Linked DNA regions of Homo sapiens: region 1 is linked to region 2. Evidence: fine-mapped expression QTL. Tissue or cell type: skeletal muscle. Region 2 holds a variant in brackets; the other region holds the start of a gene. All regions are shown on one strand. Distances are between the middles of the regions.

What was found. PIP is the estimated chance that this variant, and not a neighbour inherited with it, causes the effect.
Region 1: DCPS starts here. The variant in region 2 is fine-mapped to the expression of DCPS in skeletal muscle (GTEx, PIP above 0.99). The same link has a PIP of 0.9 or more in anterior cingulate cortex, caudate, cerebellar hemisphere, cerebral cortex and prefrontal cortex.

The regions. Positions count from the first base shown.
Region 1 is chr11:126,299,448-126,307,626 of GRCh38, forward strand. It overlaps DCPS (decapping enzyme, scavenger), which reads left to right and starts at 4,613. Exons shown (of 6, transcript NM_014026.6): 1 at 4,613-4,834; 2 at 7,123-7,297. The coding sequence starts at 4,634. It overlaps TIRAP-AS1 (TIRAP antisense RNA 1), which reads right to left and starts at 4,875. Exons shown (of 2, transcript NR_187388.1): 1 at 4,741-4,875. RefSeq lists a silencer at 4,571-4,700 and an enhancer at 6,359-6,648.
Region 2 is chr11:126,345,803-126,353,981 of GRCh38, forward strand. It overlaps DCPS (decapping enzyme, scavenger), which reads left to right. Exons shown (of 6, transcript NM_014026.6): 6 at 1-4,203. The region is part of intron 1 of GSEC (G-quadruplex forming sequence containing lncRNA); the gene reads right to left. Among named protein-coding and RNA genes, the nearest start is that of GSEC, 5.7 kb to the right of the region's middle. The variant C/G (reference allele first, on the strand shown) is at 4,083.

The DNA of each region.
Region 1 (8,179 bases), 46 kb before region 2:
TCTTGTCTCTTGTCCCTTGAATCGGGTCCTAGACGTCTAGAGATCAGCAATGGCCCTTAAAATAGCTTCCACCTTAAAAATCCCCTTACCACTCTATAGATTCAAACTCCCACATCATTTTTGGTTCCTGCAAATTTTACTTTTTTGAGAGCTCAGCAACGTAACTAAAAGAATGTTTTAAATTTTACATCCAGAATGTTCGGGTATTTTGTAGCTGACTTGTTTTCAGTTTAGTCTGTTATAATCCCTGAAATGGAACTGGGAAGTATCCAATCCTTCTTTAGACTAAAAAAGAAAAGATTTGGGAGGTTTTTTTTTTTTTTTTTTTTTGAGACAGAGTCTCGCTCTGTCACTCAGGCTGGAGCACAGTGGTGCAATCTTGGCTCATTACAACCTCCGCCTCCAGGTTCAAGCCATTCTCCTGCCTCAGCCTCCCGAGTAGCTGGAATTATAGGTGCCTGCTGCCACACTCAGCTAATTTTTGTATTTTTAATAGAGATGGGGTTTCGCCATGTTAGCCAGGCTAGTCTCAAACTCCTGACCTCAAGTGATCCACCCGCCTTGGCCTCCCAAAGTGCTGGGATTACAGGCGTGAGCCACCGCACCTTGCGTGGGAGAAATTTTAAGATTTCTGAAAAACAATTGAACAGGGCTTTATAATAAATGAGTAAGCTAATACAGCATTGTCTAGTAGAACTTCCTTTGATAATGAAAATGTTCTCCATCTGTGCTCATACGATAGCCACAAGTGGATATCAAGCACTTGCAAAGTGGCTAGTGTAACTGAGGAAATGAATTTTAACTACTACCATAAAGATTCCTTTCACACTGAGGTCTGGTATTTAATAGAACCTCTGGTAGCTGAGGCTTCCTATGAGCTCATCCTTTCCTTGGCATTCTTTTTTTTTAAGAGACAAAGCCTCGCTCTCTTGCCCAGGCTGGAGGGCAGTGGTGTGATTATAGCTCACTGCAGCCTCAAACTTCTGGGCTCAAGTGGTCCTCCCACCTCAGCCTCCTAAGTAGCTGGGACTACAGGTATGAGCCACCACGTGGGGCATGAGCCAGGCCTTTTTGAAGAGTAGAATTCTGGTTTTATATTTTAATCAAAATTATACCCATATTGATTAATTTTGCCGCTAATGAATACATTTCTCTACTATTTCATTTCAAATGTTTCTATTTTGCTCATTATATTTTAGCTACACAGGTCATTCCTTTTGAGACAGAGTCTTGCTCTGTCACCCAGGTTGAAGTGCAGTGGCGCGACCTTGGCTCACTGCAACCTGCACCTCCTGAGTTCAAGTGATTCTCCTGCCTCAGCCTCCCAGGTAGCTGGGATTACAGGCGCACACCACCACACCCAGCTAATTTTTGTATTTTTAGTACAGACTATGTTTCACCATGTTGGCCAGGCTGGTCTCGAGCTCCTGATCTGAAGTGATCCGCCCACCTCAGCCTCCCAAAGTGCTGGGATTACAGGTGTAAGCCACCATGCCCCACGGTCATTCCTATTTTTTAAAAATGTCAAGCACATTACTGCTCTAGGGCCTTTGACAGCTAATATTTACTGTGCCTGGGCTCTTCATATGGCTGATATGGCTGGTTCCTTCTCATCATTCAAGTCTCAGCTCAAATGTCACCTTTTGAGAGGCTGTCCATGATCATCTTATCTAAAGAGCTTGGCCGAGCATGGTGGCTCATGCCTGTAATCCCAACACTTTGGGAGATGGGCAGGTCACCTGAGGTCAGGAGTTTGAGACCAGCCTGGCCAACATGGCAAAACCCCATCTCTACTAAAAATACAAAAATTGGCCAGGTGTGCTAGTGTACGCCTGTAATCCCAGCTACTTAGAAGGCTGAGGCAGAAGAGTCGCTTGAACCTGGGAGGTGAAGGTTGCAGTGAGCCAAGATTGCACCACTGTACTCCAGCCTGGGTGACAGAGTGAGACTCTGTCTCAAAGAAAGAAAAAAAAGGGCGGGGGGGGGGGGCTCCTATCCCCAGGCTCTTTCACACTGTCCAGTTTTGTCCTATTAACAGTACTTGGCCGGGCACGGTGGCTCACGCCTGTAATCCCAGCACTTTGGGAGGCTGAGGCGGGCAGATCACGAGGTCAGGAAATTGAGACCATCCTGGCTAACACGGTGAAACCCCGTCTCTACTAAAAATACAAAAAATTAGCCAGGCGTGGTGGTAGGCCCCTGTAGTCCCAGCTACTTGGGAGGCTGAGGCAGGAGAATGGCGTGAACCTGGGAGGTGGAGCTTGCAGTGAGCCGAGATCGCACCACTGCACTCCAGCCTGGGCGACAGAGGGAGACTCCGTCTCAAAAAAAAACAAAAAACAAAAAACAAAAAACAGTTCTTAATCATTATCTTGTTTACCTCATGTACCCCATTTGAATATACATTTTATGAAAGAAGAGGCCTCGTTGTCTTGCTTAGAACTAATAGCCGCTGGCACATGGAAAATGGAGACCTGGAAAGGTTAAGAGACTTTTCCAAAGTTGCACAGCTAGTCAGTGTTGGGGCCCGACTTCATGGCTCTCAATTATGGGCTCTTTTTGTTAAAACATAGCTACTTTGGCAGGGTGCGGTGGCTCACGCCTGTAATGCCAGCTCTTTGGGAGGCCCAGGCGGGCGGATCACGAGGTCAGGAGTTCGAGACCAGCCTGGCCAACATGGTGAAACCCTGACTCTACTAAAAATACAAAAAATTAGCCGGGAGTGGTAGCAGCCGCCTGTAATACCAGCTACTCAGGAAGTTGAGGCAGGAGAATCGCTTGAACCTGGAGGCAGAGGTTGCAGTGAGCCGAGATCGCGCCATTGCACTCCAGCCTGGGGGACAGATCCTAAGTCTCTCCTAATAATGCTTTCTGCATCACACACACACACACACACACACACAAAGTAGTCCTTTTTTTTTTTTTTTTTTTTTGAGATGGAGTCTCGCTCTGTCACCCAGGCTGGAGTGCAGTGGCGCGATCTCAGCTAACTGCAAGCTCCGCCTCCCGGGTTCACGCCATTCTCCTGCCTCAGCCTCCCAAGTAGCTGGGACTACAGGCGCCCGCCACCACGCCTGGCTAATTTTTTTGTATCTTTAGTAGAGACGGAGTTTCACCACGTTAGCCAGGATGGTCTCGATCTCCTGACCTCGTGATCCGCCCACCTCGGCCTCCCAAAGTGCTGGGATTACAGGCATGAGCCACCGCGCCTGGCCTAAAGTAGTCTTTTATCCAACTCCTAATCTATATTTCTGGTAGAAGTAATCCAAAAATCAAACTAACACATGGTACACTTTGTTATTGACCAAAAACTGACTGTAAATTGCATCTTGTTGCTAACGTTGAGAATGGCAAAAACTGTCCCACACCCATGAGATCTGTCTGAAAACCTAAACTCAAATCACTGGCAAAATAAATGTGTGGCTGACTGAAGCGATGTAAGTACCAACTCTTTTTTTTTTTCTTTGAGACGTAGTCTCGCTCTGTCGCCAGGGTGGAGTGCAGTGGTGCGATCTCGGCTCACTACAATACTCCGCCCGCGTTCAAGCGATTTTCCTGCCTCAGCCTCCCGAGTAGCTGGGACTACAGGCGCGGGCCACCACGCCCGGGTAATTTTTGTATTTTTAGTAGAGACGGGGTTTCACCATGTTGGCCAGGATGGTCTCGGTATCTTAACCTCGTGATCCGTCCACCTCGACCTCTCGAAGTGCTGGAATTACAGGCGTGAGCCACCGCGCCTGTCCGTAAGTACCAACTCTTCACAAAATTTAGATCTGTTAAATAACACCAGTGAAAAACGGGCTAACCAGAAACAATGGTCACCAAAGAAACCCTCAACAGCAGAAGTTACAAGTAATAATTTTATATGGCAAAAAAAAAAAAAAAAAAAAAAAAAAAGAGAAACGAAACCCTGGGAGACGAATCATACTGCAAATCATATCCCTGGGTAGCAGGGCAGAAATACAGGTAAACAAAATAGAGAGGAGGGGGATGCCTCTAGCCCGGAAATAAGTGGGTGGTGGAGATGGTTCTTCTGGCCATATTCGTTTACCTTTTTTGTCAGCAGAAAAGTACTGAGTCTACAAAGTAAAAAACTGACCACGATGAAAATTTCTGCAAAGTAATTAAAATGGGAGAAAAATGGAAATGGCTTAAATACTCGGTATAAAAAATCGACCAAGGAATCAAATGGGCTCACGGATTTGCGTCAGAAACGTTGCTTCCCCGATAATTGGTCAACGTCGGTGTAACTATGATTAAAATGTCAGTATTCAAACAAGGGCTCCAACACTACCGTGGCCCAAGGGCGTCTTCGGCTCCCACCCCGGGGCGTGGGCCTGGGGGTCCCTCTTCACTGCGCAGCCACCTCTAGCCCGCCGCTTTCGGGACTCTCAGCCTTCTTTTCCCTTCCCTGAGGGCCGGCCGGCACCACAACGGGGCCAAAGGCAGTAACTCGGTTGAAAGGCGCGCCCTGGGACAGGTCAGCGGGCTCCGCCATGCGCGGCACGCATCCCGCAGGAGCGGGTGCCAGAGCAGGGTAGGCCGGGAGTTAGCAGCCCAGCCAGGCCGCTGGACTCGGGCTAGGGGCGGGGCCAGCGCAGGGGGCGCAGGCGCACACCGCCTCCGCGGCAGCATGGCGGACGCAGCTCCTCAACTAGGCAAGAGGAAGCGCGAATTGGACGTGGAGGAGGCCCACGCCGCCAGCACAGAGGAAAAGGAGGCAGGAGTTGGAAATGGTACCTGTGCTCCTGTCCGCTTACCGTTCTCCGGCTTCAGACTGCAGAAGGTGCTGAGGGAGTCTGCGCGGGACAAAATCATTTTCCTACACGGGAAGGTACCAGGAGGCAACCCTGAGGTGGGATGCGGGAAGCAGTGAACCAATCATCGCCTCGGAGGCAGATTTTTTTTTTTCGGATCTCGGCTGGAAAATACCAATCATTATCACTCCGGGGAGGCGGGAGTGCGCCACTAGAATGCATAGAGGGGCGGTGAAAGGCGGCAAGATTGCCTTTGAAATTAAGGCAATGAACACATCTAGCTCTAATTTTTCTAATGTCTCCACTAGAAATATCTACTGGGAGAGTGCATTGCAGATTAAAGATCACATGTTACATTCCCCAAGCCATTCATCATCCATTTATGTATACAGGGACTAGGAACCCAGTCAATGTTAGATGTCTCGCTCATCCCTGTCCGTGGAAACGACATGAGACTGTAGGAGATGTGATCTCTGCCTTACGCGACTTCAGCCGTAACAGGAGAACAATATATTATAATTGTTAATTCAGTTCTACGCACGCACTTTCATGCATGCCAGACACTAAACTAGGTACTGGGGATGTGGAGACGAAAGTTACCATCCCTGATCTTCAGGACTACGGAATATTTCTGGCGAGACAGATACACACAGCTTGCTCCAATACCAACGTGCTCAGCAATCTGGCAGGGGCTGAGGAGAGATGGAGACCATTCCAGGAACTAGTGAGGAGGCCTAGCCAGAGCAGATATGGGGGTTCCCCAGAAACTAGTGAGGAGGCCTAGCCAGGGCAGATAAGGGGGTTCCCTAGAACTACTAGCAGGAACTCTCACCTTTGGGAGGATCAGGGAACCTTGGCCTAGGCTTCCATGCCTCTGTGTGTATCTGGTTTTTAAATTTTTATTTATTTATTTATTTATTTTTGAGACGGAGTCTCTCCTCTCTGTCACCCAGGCTAGAGTGCAGTGATGTGATCTCGGCTCACTGCAACCTCTGCCTCCCGAGTTCAAGCTATTCTACCTGCCTCAGCCTGCCCAATAGCTGGGATTACAGGCCCCCGCCACCATGCCCAGCTAATTTTTGTATTTTTAGTAGAGATGGGGGTTTCACCATGTTGGCCAGGCTGGTCTCGAACTCCTGACCTCAGGTGATCCGCCTGCCTCTGCCTCCCAAAGTGCTGGGATTACAGGCGTGAGCCACCGCACCCGCCTTTTTTTTTTTTTTTTTTTTTTTTGAGATGGAGTTTCACTCTTCTTGTCCAGGCTGGAGTGCAATGGCACTATCTTGGCTCACTGCAACCTCCACTTTCTGGATTCAAGTGATTCTCCTGCCTCAGCCTCCCAAGTAGCTGGGATTACAGGCATCTGCCACCATGCCCAGCTAATTTTCGTATTTTTAGTAGAGACAGGGTTTCACCATGTTGGCCAGGCTGGTCTTGAACTCCTGACCTCAGGTGATCCACCCACCTCTGCCTCCCAAAGTGCTGGGATTATAGGCATGAGCGACTGCGCTGGGCCTTGTTTTTTGTTGTTTTTTGTTTGTTTGTTTGTTTGTTTTTGTTTCTTGTTTTCTGTTTTTTTGTATGCGATTCTGTCTGGTTCTCTCAGCCCAGCTGTCTTCAGTGTGCAGCACCTGTTGAAGGTGTTAGTCATGAGAGCCTTCGAGCTAGGAGTCACTTGGGAGACCTAGGTTCTGGTTTCTGTTTCAATGCTGACTGTTCATGTGACCTTGGGCAAGTCACTCAAGGTCTGTTTTTCATCTTCTGAAATGGGGAGAACTTGACAGAGGTCTTGTAAGCCTAAAATGGAAGACAACTGAGAAGCCTTGTATTCTGGGGAAGAAAGGTGTGAGAACTGCCACAAGGATTTGGGTGGAGATGCCTTCTCTGGCTGGGCATGGTGGCTCACACCTGTAATCCCAGCACTTTGGGAGGCTGAGGCAGGCATATCATTTGAGATCGGGAGTTCAAGACCAGCCTGGCCAACATGGTGAAACCCCATCTCTACTAAAAATACAAAAATTAGCCAGATGTGGTGGCATGCGCCTGTAATCCCAGCTACTCAGGAGGCTGTGGCGGGAGAATTGTTTGAGCCCAGGAGGTGGAGGTTGCAGTGAGCCAAGATCGCGCCATTGCACTCCAATCCGGGCAACAGAGCAACACTCCATCTCAAAAAAAAAAAGATGCCTTCTCTGAGAAAAGAAATGTGAAATGTGAGTGCCATTGGCTAGACTTCCCCAGAGGGAAGACTTCAGGGAAGGAAATCCCAAGTATTGGGAATTCAAAGGCCCTGGGAGCTTCTGTCTTGCTCTCCAGAGTCTCATCGTGGTTCTGCCCTTGAGCCCACTGATGATGCCTCTGCCCACAGGTGAATGAGGCCTCTGGGGATGGGGATGGAGAGGATGCCGTTGTGATCCTGGAGAAGACGCCATTTCAGGTGGAACAGGTGGCTCAGCTCCTGACGGGCAGCCCTGAGCTCCAGTTGCAGTTCTCCAATGATATCTACAGCACCTATCACTTGTTCCCTCCAAGACAACTGAATGGTGAGCAAGAGGTGGCCAGGGTGGCTGTATGGAGGGAGAATGGGATGGTGGGAAATTAGGTGGTATGGTGACCAGACTCTCTATACCCGATTTGCATATTCTAGTACAATAGGGAGATTACTTCCCTAGGGGACATTTGGCCATCGGTGAAGACATTTTTGATTGTCAGAATCGGGGGTGGTGGTGGGGTGTTGCTTCTGGCATCTAGTGGGTGGAGATCAAGAATGCTGCTAAACACCTTACAATGTACAGGACAGGCTCCCACAGCAAAGTAATGTCAATAGTGCTGAAACTCAGAAACCTGGCCAGGCATGGTGGCCCACACCTGTAATCCCAGCACTTTGGGAGGCCACGGCGGGCAGATCACCTGAGGTCAGGAGTTCAAGACCAGACTCTCGGCCAACATGGTGAAACCTCATCTCTACTAAAAATACAAAATTTAGCTGGGCATGGTGGCGTTCACCTGTAATCCTGGCTACTTGGGAGGCTGAGGTGGGAGACTCGCTTGAACCCAGGAGGCAGAGGTTACAATGAGCTGAGATTGTGCCACTGTACTCCAGCCTGGGTGATGGAACAAAACCCTATCTCAAAAAAAAAAAAAAAAAAGAGAAACCTTGTTGTAGTGTAGTATGTTTTAGGGAGAGAGTGTGATTCATGGGATAGAATAATATATATATATTTTTTGAGATGGAGTCTTGCTCTGTTGCCCAGGCTAGAGTGCAGTGGCGCGATCTCGGCTCGCTGCAACCTCCGCCTCACAGGTTCAAGCAATTCTCCTGCCTCAGCCTCCCGAGCAGCTGGGATTACAGGCGCCCACCACCACGCCTGGCTAATTTTTGTATTTTTAGTAGAGTCAGGGTTTCCATCATGGCCAGGCTGGTC
Region 2 (8,179 bases):
TGGGTAGAACCTGTGGGAAGGCCTTGAGAATGGTGGAAAGTCTCCAGGTGGTGGTTTCAACTGACAGGTGGGAGCTGCCCTGGAAGGGTGCCGAGGGCCTTCTCCAAGCCCCAGGGCTCACCGTCCGTGGTGGCTTCCTTCTCCCCACTCTGTGCCTCTCCTGTTTGTACAACTTCTTATTCTGCTCCTCCCCATCACCCCTCCTCCTTCCCCTGCCATCCACCTCTCCTTTGAGGAGTTCCCCAAAAAACCAAACTTGGAAGCTTTCAGGAAATTATCTATACAGGTTTCTGATGGCACTTCCTCCTTCCAGCAGTGAGGTCACACCTCCCTGTGAGTCAGTCAACCCTGCTGATAAACTTCTTGTTGACGAGGATAGGGGCTTGGTGCCTGGAAATCGGCGGGTTTTAATAAGAATCAGATTATGCAAGGCCGAAAAGCCTGCCTTGCTCTGTTATTTGGTCAGCGAGTCCCCAGCCTTGAGTTTTTATCTCGGCAGGAAGACAAAACAGACTCACATGAAGCAGCCAGAAGATCAAGTGCAAAACAGTGAATCAGCAAGGGCAAATGATATGGTTGCAGTTGAATACAAAAGCCCGGAGGCGGCTCGGGTTCAAGGCCTATCAGAGGCAGATGTTCAGAGGATCTTGAGACCAGGAAGGGACCTCAAAGCGTCAGAGGCTGATGAGCAGTTAGGCAGCCAACAGGGCTCAAGCGGCGCAGGGACATGGCTTGTATGGGCGGGCACACAAGTAAACACACAGGCTCTCTCCAGCACACAGGACCAAGGCATCATGCTGCCAGAGGGGCTGGTGTTTGCCACTTTGTCAGAGTAGGGCTGTGGATTTTGTGCCTTGCTTGGGAAGCTCTCAGGGATGGCAGGATGGCAGGCTCCTAAGTGACAGCAGGGGGGAAGCTTGAGGCACAGTGGGTGGTCCTTACTCTCCATCCCCTGCCTGAGAACCAGGAAGCCTCATTCAGAGATTAGCCCCTTTACTGCAGGTGGTAGCCCAGGTGCAGCCAACCTGCTTCAGGGTCTCAGGGCCTGCTGTGGACCCCCATGGTCCTGGGAGAGACTCCTTAGAAACAGCAGAATCACGAACATGGTGAAACCCATCTCTACTAAAAAACAGAAAAATTAGCCAGGTGTGGTGGTGGGCTCCTATAATCCCACCTACTTGGGAGGCTGAAGCAGGAGAATCCCTTGAACCCGGGAGGCGGAGGTTGCCGTGAGCCACCGCACTTTGGCCTGGGTGACAGAGCAAGACTCCCTCTCAGAAAAAAAAATTAAAAAAATAGAAACAGCCGGGGAGTGGAGGGTGTGGTCAGAAAGCCTCAGGGACCTGCTTCAGCCTTCAGGGAGTTCAGATGAGGCACAATGAAGCCACTGGCCTCCACTCAGCCATTCTTCCCTGCAGCTCTTTTTTTTTTTTTTTTTTTTGAGACAATCTCGCTCCATCACCCAGGCTGGAGTGCAGTGGCACAATCTCGACTCACTGCAACCTCTGCCTCCTGGGTTCAAGTGATTCTCCTGCCTCAGCCTCCTGAGTAGCTGGGACTACAGGGGTGCGCCCCCATGCCCAGCTAATTTTTGTATTTTTAGTAGAGACGGGGTTTCACCATGTTGGCCAGGCTGGTCTCCAACTCCTGGCCTCAGGTGATCCACCCATCTCGGCCTCCCAAAGTGCTGGGATTCCAGGCGTGAGCCACCGCGCCCAGCCCCTGCAATACGTCAACAGTCCCTAGATTCAGGCAACATGGAGTTGCAGCCAAGGAACTTTGAGGTAGTGACCAATGCAGGGAGGTCTGACAGAGAATCAGCAGGATCCATTTCATGGCCACCACACATCTGACTGACTCCTTCTTGGGCTAAGCAAATACTTTTGTGGGCAGTGACACTGGCAGCTGCTGGGGTCTTGGCAGGAGGTTGGATGGAGGTCTTCTCCCAGAGCAGTGTCCAGCTTGCAGGAATGCTCCCTGCGTCTCAGTTGTGCCCATTCCAGGTCCAGGGGAAAGAAGTGACCCGCTTCCCCTCTGAAAGCAGATGTGGTCCCAACAAGCAAACACGGTCTCCATCTCCAGCACCACAACTGCCACGGAGCAGAGGGAGGCCTCCCTGTGGAGCAGCCCTTCCCTGTGGCCTCAGCCCATGCCCTCCTGCCCAGCCCCCAGTGGTGCTGCTGGAGGGTCTGACTCCACGGGCTCCCGCTGACCTTGCCGTTCCTTCCCCTCATCTCGTAGCGCCTGGCCCCTGGAGGAAGGTGGGTAGGAATTTGACACCGGATAAATAAATGTTTGAGGGGCAAGAGAGATGGGACAGAGTTCACCCAACAGGACAGACGAGGCTGGCAGTCACAGCAGAGGGCAGGCACTCAGGTCTGGAGAGGCAGGGCATGGAGACAGGGACCCACACTCTGGAAGGTTTCTCGACTCCCCCGAGGGGCTGGCCAGTTCTGTCTTCCTTCTGCCCACTCTGTGGGGAGGAGCCTCTCTGGGATAGCGTCCCCTCACTCCTCTCCCAGCCTCGTTTATCTTCACCACAGTACAGAAGGGGGCCCCTCTCCAGGCCTCACCACTTAACTTTTCTTGTACATGGAAAGACAAGCCTCTGCTAGAGGCCTGGCAAGGGTTCCCCTTCAGAGCCAGCCAGTGCTCTGCTGCTGTAATCTCCAGGGACCCTGCCGGCCACGGCCCCCATGCAGCTCCCTCCCTCAATCCAACCCTCTTTGGGCTTATCACCCTCAAGGTCTAGAGTGCACCAGGGTTGGCTGCTCTGCCAAGTCCTGTTGAGACTCCAAAAGCATAGTCTGTCTTTATTAGGGTGACCTTCATATCAGACTCCCAGGTAACTCAAGATGATAGCTTTGCAATATAGTGCCTCCTTTTATTCCTATTTGTGAGTTTCTCCGCTTTCCTCACTAGACTGAGAGGGTCTTGAGGGTAGGAGCTTTGTTTTAGTTATCTCTCTATCCCTGGCCCCTAAGACACTACCTGGCTCAGCAAACCAACCTTTGAGACAAAGCAACATTATAACACTACATTCATATAGCAGATCATTTCATGACCCACATTCTCCTTCCTTTTTACGAAGAAATGGGCTCAGGATGTCTTGTCCAGCATTATGGAGTGAACGTCAGCTCCAGGAAGCAGAGACTTCTGGCCCTTTGTTCACCATTTCCCCAGAACCTAGGGTGGTGACTCACCTATAAGTGCTCAAAAAACATGTGGCGAATGGAGGACCAGAGCTAGGCTCTGAATGAGGCCTCCTGGATCTCACGCAGGGGATGGAGAGTAAGGACCAGCCCCTCTACCTCATGCTTTCTTCCTGCTATCTCGTAAGAGCCCAACATCCTTCTGTCCTGAGCAAGCCACAAGCTGCAGCCCTGCCTTGACAAAATGGCAAATGCCAGCCCCTCTGGCAGCATGACACCTTGGTCCTGTGTGCTGCAGAGTGCCTCATGTGTTGAACTGTGTGCCCTCAGAAGCATGCCATGCCCCCGCTCTGCTGGAGCAGTGGCAGATGTCACCCTTCCTAGATAAATCCTGGACGGCTCCACGACTGGCTTTTAGCCCTCAACACTTGGCCTACATTCTTTCTGGCTTGGTTGGAGAAGGAAAGAAGCAGTTGGAGGCATGACTGCTATTGTTCCTTGGCTTCTCTCCATTTGTCTCAAACTTTCCTAATAGAGCAAAATTGCTGAGTGGTCTCTATTTACCAACATGAAACAGAAAAATACCATCTCAGGCTCCATATTCCATGTCCCTGTTGAATACAGATCCCCGAACTGAGAAATAAGAAACAACTACATACGAAGTAATACTTGAAAATGTTTCTCTTGTAATACTTCCATATCCAAAGCATTTGAATATATTTATTTTATTGATGTAGGTCTGCCAACTCTTCCTTCTCAGGAAGGACTGTTTTTATTCCAAACATGTATATATAAGGTTAAAATGTATTTTTTAAAATAAGATAATTATTGATAGTTGTTTTTAAAATAGCCTTGCTTAGCAAAATAAATGTTGGCAACCCTAAGTTTGTTCTATTATAATATTATTGAAATTACATTGAATTCTGAAAT[C/G]CATGTCAACTTGAAGTTACCAAGTTTTAACCACTGTTAGAAAATAAGCAGGAATGAAATCTGTTTCAAGCGTTTCAATTTCAATACAATTTAATAAACAGGCTTTGAGCATCTACCCCCACCCCCTTTTGGTTTTTTTGCAAGCACCTGGAGGCAGAGCTCATGTGGAGCTTACAATTTAGTAGGAACACAGGCATTAATTACAAAGTAATTACAATGCTGATGAGTGTGTTGAAGTGGAGGGGGCTATGGGGCTTCAGCCCCAAAAAGCTAAACCTGCAGGCTAAAACTTTAAAAAAATATATTTAATTGGCAAATAAAAATAGTATACATTTATGGTGTACAACATGTTTTGTTATATGTATACACTGTGGAATCACTAAATCGGGCTAATTAACATATGCATTATGTCACATATTTATCATTTTGTAATGGTGAGAACATTTAAAATCTCTGTGAGCAATTTTCAAGTATACAGTACATTGCTTTTTTTGTTTTTTTGAAACAGAGTCTCACTGTGTCACCCAGGCTGGAGGGCAGTGGCGCAGTCTCGACTCACTGCAACCTCCACCTCCTGGGTTCAAGCGATTCAGCCTCCCAAGTAGCTGAGATTACAGGCGCACACCACCACACCTGGCTAATTTTGTAGTTTTATAGTAGAGACGGGGTTTCACCATGTTGGACAAGCTGGTCTAGAACTCCTGACCTCAAGTGATCTGTCTGCCTCAGCTTCCCAAAGTGCTGGGATTACAGGCGTAGGCCACCACCCCCCGCCCAGTACATTGTTATTAACTATTGTCACCATGTGGCACAATAGATCTCTGGAACTTCTTCCTCCCATCCAACTGAAAGTTTGCATTCTCTGACCATCTCCCCATTCCAACAGGCAACCACCATTCTACTCTCTGCTTCTGTGAGTTCCACTTTGTTAGGTTCTACACACGAGATCACGCAGCGTTTGTCTTCTTGTGCTCTAGGCTGGATCTTGGTTATCAGCCCAATGACAAGCAGAGTAAAGGCCCGGAAGTTAGGGAGACCAGGGCTCAGTGTGGCTGGCACTGAGAGCTGAGCTTCTAGCGTGGGCCCACACATACATTTAAGACTGTAGCCAATTTTCCTTTCAGAACCACGATGAAGAAATGAAAGCCAAGGCCAAGAAAATCTTTAATGTTCTGTTCCTCCCCTGCTTGGGAAGTAGAGTGGTCTGAAGGCTCCAACACAGAATCTGTGCCATAACCAAGTCTTATCTGGGGCAAGTTACATAACTGCTCATGAAATAGGAGTGATAACAATGCTTCCCCCAGACGGTTTTTCTGAGGGTTAAATAAGAATTTTGTGGGACATAGTAATCACTCAGTAAATGTTCTGGTCTGAGAGTGACCAAAAGGATGGAACTAGAGATATTTGGGCAAGATATTTGCTATGGCCTGAACGTCTGTGTTCCCCTAAAATTCATATGTGGAAATCCTAACACCCAAGGCAATCGTGGGGCCTTTGGGAGGTGATTAGGCCATGAGGGTGGGGGGCCCCCATTAATGGGATTAGTGCCTCATAAAAGAGATCCCAGAGTCACCCCTAGGCCCTTCCTCTCACTGTGAGGTTACAGTGAGAAGATGACCTTGTATGAACCAGGAAGCAGGCTGCTGGCATCTTCATCTTAGACTTTCTAGCCTACAGAACTGTGAGAGATTTCTGTAGTTTATAAGCCATCCAGTCTACATTTTGTATAACAGACCAAACAAATATTAAAAATAACTTCGTGATTAGAAGTGCTACAAAATGCTAGACTACGCATGGAACCAAGAGTTTCTATTTATTTACTTTTTGAGACAGTCTCACTCTGTTGCCAGGCTGGAGTGCAGTGGCTCAATCTCGGCTCACTGCAACCTCCGCCTCCCGGGTTCAAGTGATTCTCCTGCCTCAGCCTCCTGAGTAGCTGGGATTACAGGCACCCACTACCACGCCCAGTTAATTTTTGTGTTTTTAGTAGAGATGGGGTTTCACCATGTTGGCCAGGCTGGTCTCGAAATTCCGACTTCTGGTGATCCACCCACCTCGGCCTCCCAAAGTGCTGAGATTACGGGCATGAGCCAACACTCCTGGCCAACCAAGAGGTTTCAAGGAAAAAAGCCGTAAACTTTTGGTGGTTAACTGACTGTGGTCCTAAACAGAGGCAGGGGCTGTGTGCAATGACTTCTCAGGATCTCTTTCAGCCTACAGGTTCCTGGAATGCATTTCAGCTAACACTACAAGAGTGATGTCCCTTGCTACTGAGAACCCTGGGAACAGCTCAGCTCCATGGTCCAGCCATATAAATCTGATAAAAATAGGAGCTGAAATACCATCCTGGAGTTGCTATTTTTAAAATCATCTGAGATGCTGGATGGGGTATATTTCTTCCTCAAACACATCTTGCTGTTTCCTCCTCTTGGTGGGCAGGATGCTAACGTGGCACATGATACAGGAGCTGTTCCACGCTGCTGCTCACACCCACTCCTGCCAGAGAGGGGCCGCAGGGCCAGGGCTTCCCAGATCTAGATGCACCTGCTCCTCCCTCTGCTCCTGAGGCCCCTCTGGTTGCCCCAGCACAGAGGTGTCCTGCCACTTCCACCAAGCAGAAACACAGGAGAGTTTGGGAGGCAAAGGAAATGGGAATGGAGGCAGCACTGATGGCTTGGAAGGGGACTAAGACCTGTTGTTCCTCTGGTTGCCTTGGTCCCACTTTGGCACAGTTAACATCCAAAAGAAACAGTCCCCATGGGCCAAAGCCCTGCTTATCCCATCCTACTGCCTCTTGCTGAGCCGCTCATCATGTGTTGTAGTTGCACCAAAGGGGGGCCTGGGGCCAAAAAAGCACATGGAGAGGAGAGAGGAGAGAAGAGGAGAAGGAAAGATGGAAAGACAAGAAAAGAGAGAGAGAGAGGAAGGAAGGAAAGAAGGAAGGAAGAAAAAAAAAGAAAGAAAAAGAAAGAAGAGGAGAAGGAAAGATGGAAAGACAAGAAAAGAGAGAGAAAGGAAGGAAGGAAAGAAGGAAGAAAGGAAAGAAAAGAGAAGAGGAGAAGGAAAGATGGAAAGACAAGAAAAGAGAGAGAGAAAGGAACGAAGGAAAGAAGGAAGGAAGAAAGGAAAGAAAGAAAAAGAGAAGAGAAGGAAAGATGGAAAGACAAGAAGAGAGAGAGAGAAAGCAAGGAAGGAAAGAAGGAAGAAAAAGAAAGAAAAAGAGAAGAGGAGAAGGAAAGATGGAAAGACAAGAAAAGAGAGAGAAAGGAAGGAAGGAAAGAAGGAAGGAAGAAAGGAAAGAAAAAGAAAGAAGAGGAGAAAGAAAGATGGAAAGACAAGAAAAAGAGAGAGAAAGGAAGGAAGGAAAGAAGGAAGGAAGAAAGGAAAGAAAGAAAAAGAAAGAAGAGGAGAAGGAAAGATGGAAAGACAAGAAGAGAGAGAAAGGAAGGAAGGAAAGAAGGAAGGAAGAAAAGAAAGAAAGAAAAAGAGAGAAGAGAAGAGGAGAAAGGCACCAGAATTGCTTCCCTCCTGCCCCAAAGATGACATGGCTTCTAGGCAGTGAGCTAAGCTTGTGGCCATGCTGTTAAGAAACTGGAGGGAAAAGATCATCATGAGTAAGCACATTGTGGCCTAACCTGAGGGGAGCAGAATTACGGTTAGCTTCTGGGCACCTAGTAACCAGGCTTGGGATAAGCTGGGGGAGAGGCCTGAATACAGCTTATAGGTTAGAAAAGGCACGCCACCTGCATAGTAACAGCACACACTTATATATAGCAGGTTATGCTTTCAGACCAAATTCGCATCCATTGCCTGATTTAATGCCAACAATAGCCCTTTGAATAAGCAGTTATTTCCTTTCCCCTCCCCCCACCCCAGTAAGAAAACTAAAGCTATTTAGTGGCAGAGACAAGAGTTGGAACTCAGGTCTCCAGGAACAAATGCTGGTTCTTAAGTTCCATTTTCTGGTAGAGTGACATTTACGTGATTCACGGCAAGAACTGCAAACTGTGCTTAGATCTAGTTCATCAAATGGCCAAGTTTAGAGGCTGGGCTGACGCTTGGATCAGTTCTGTCAGATTCACTTAGTTATGAAGGGC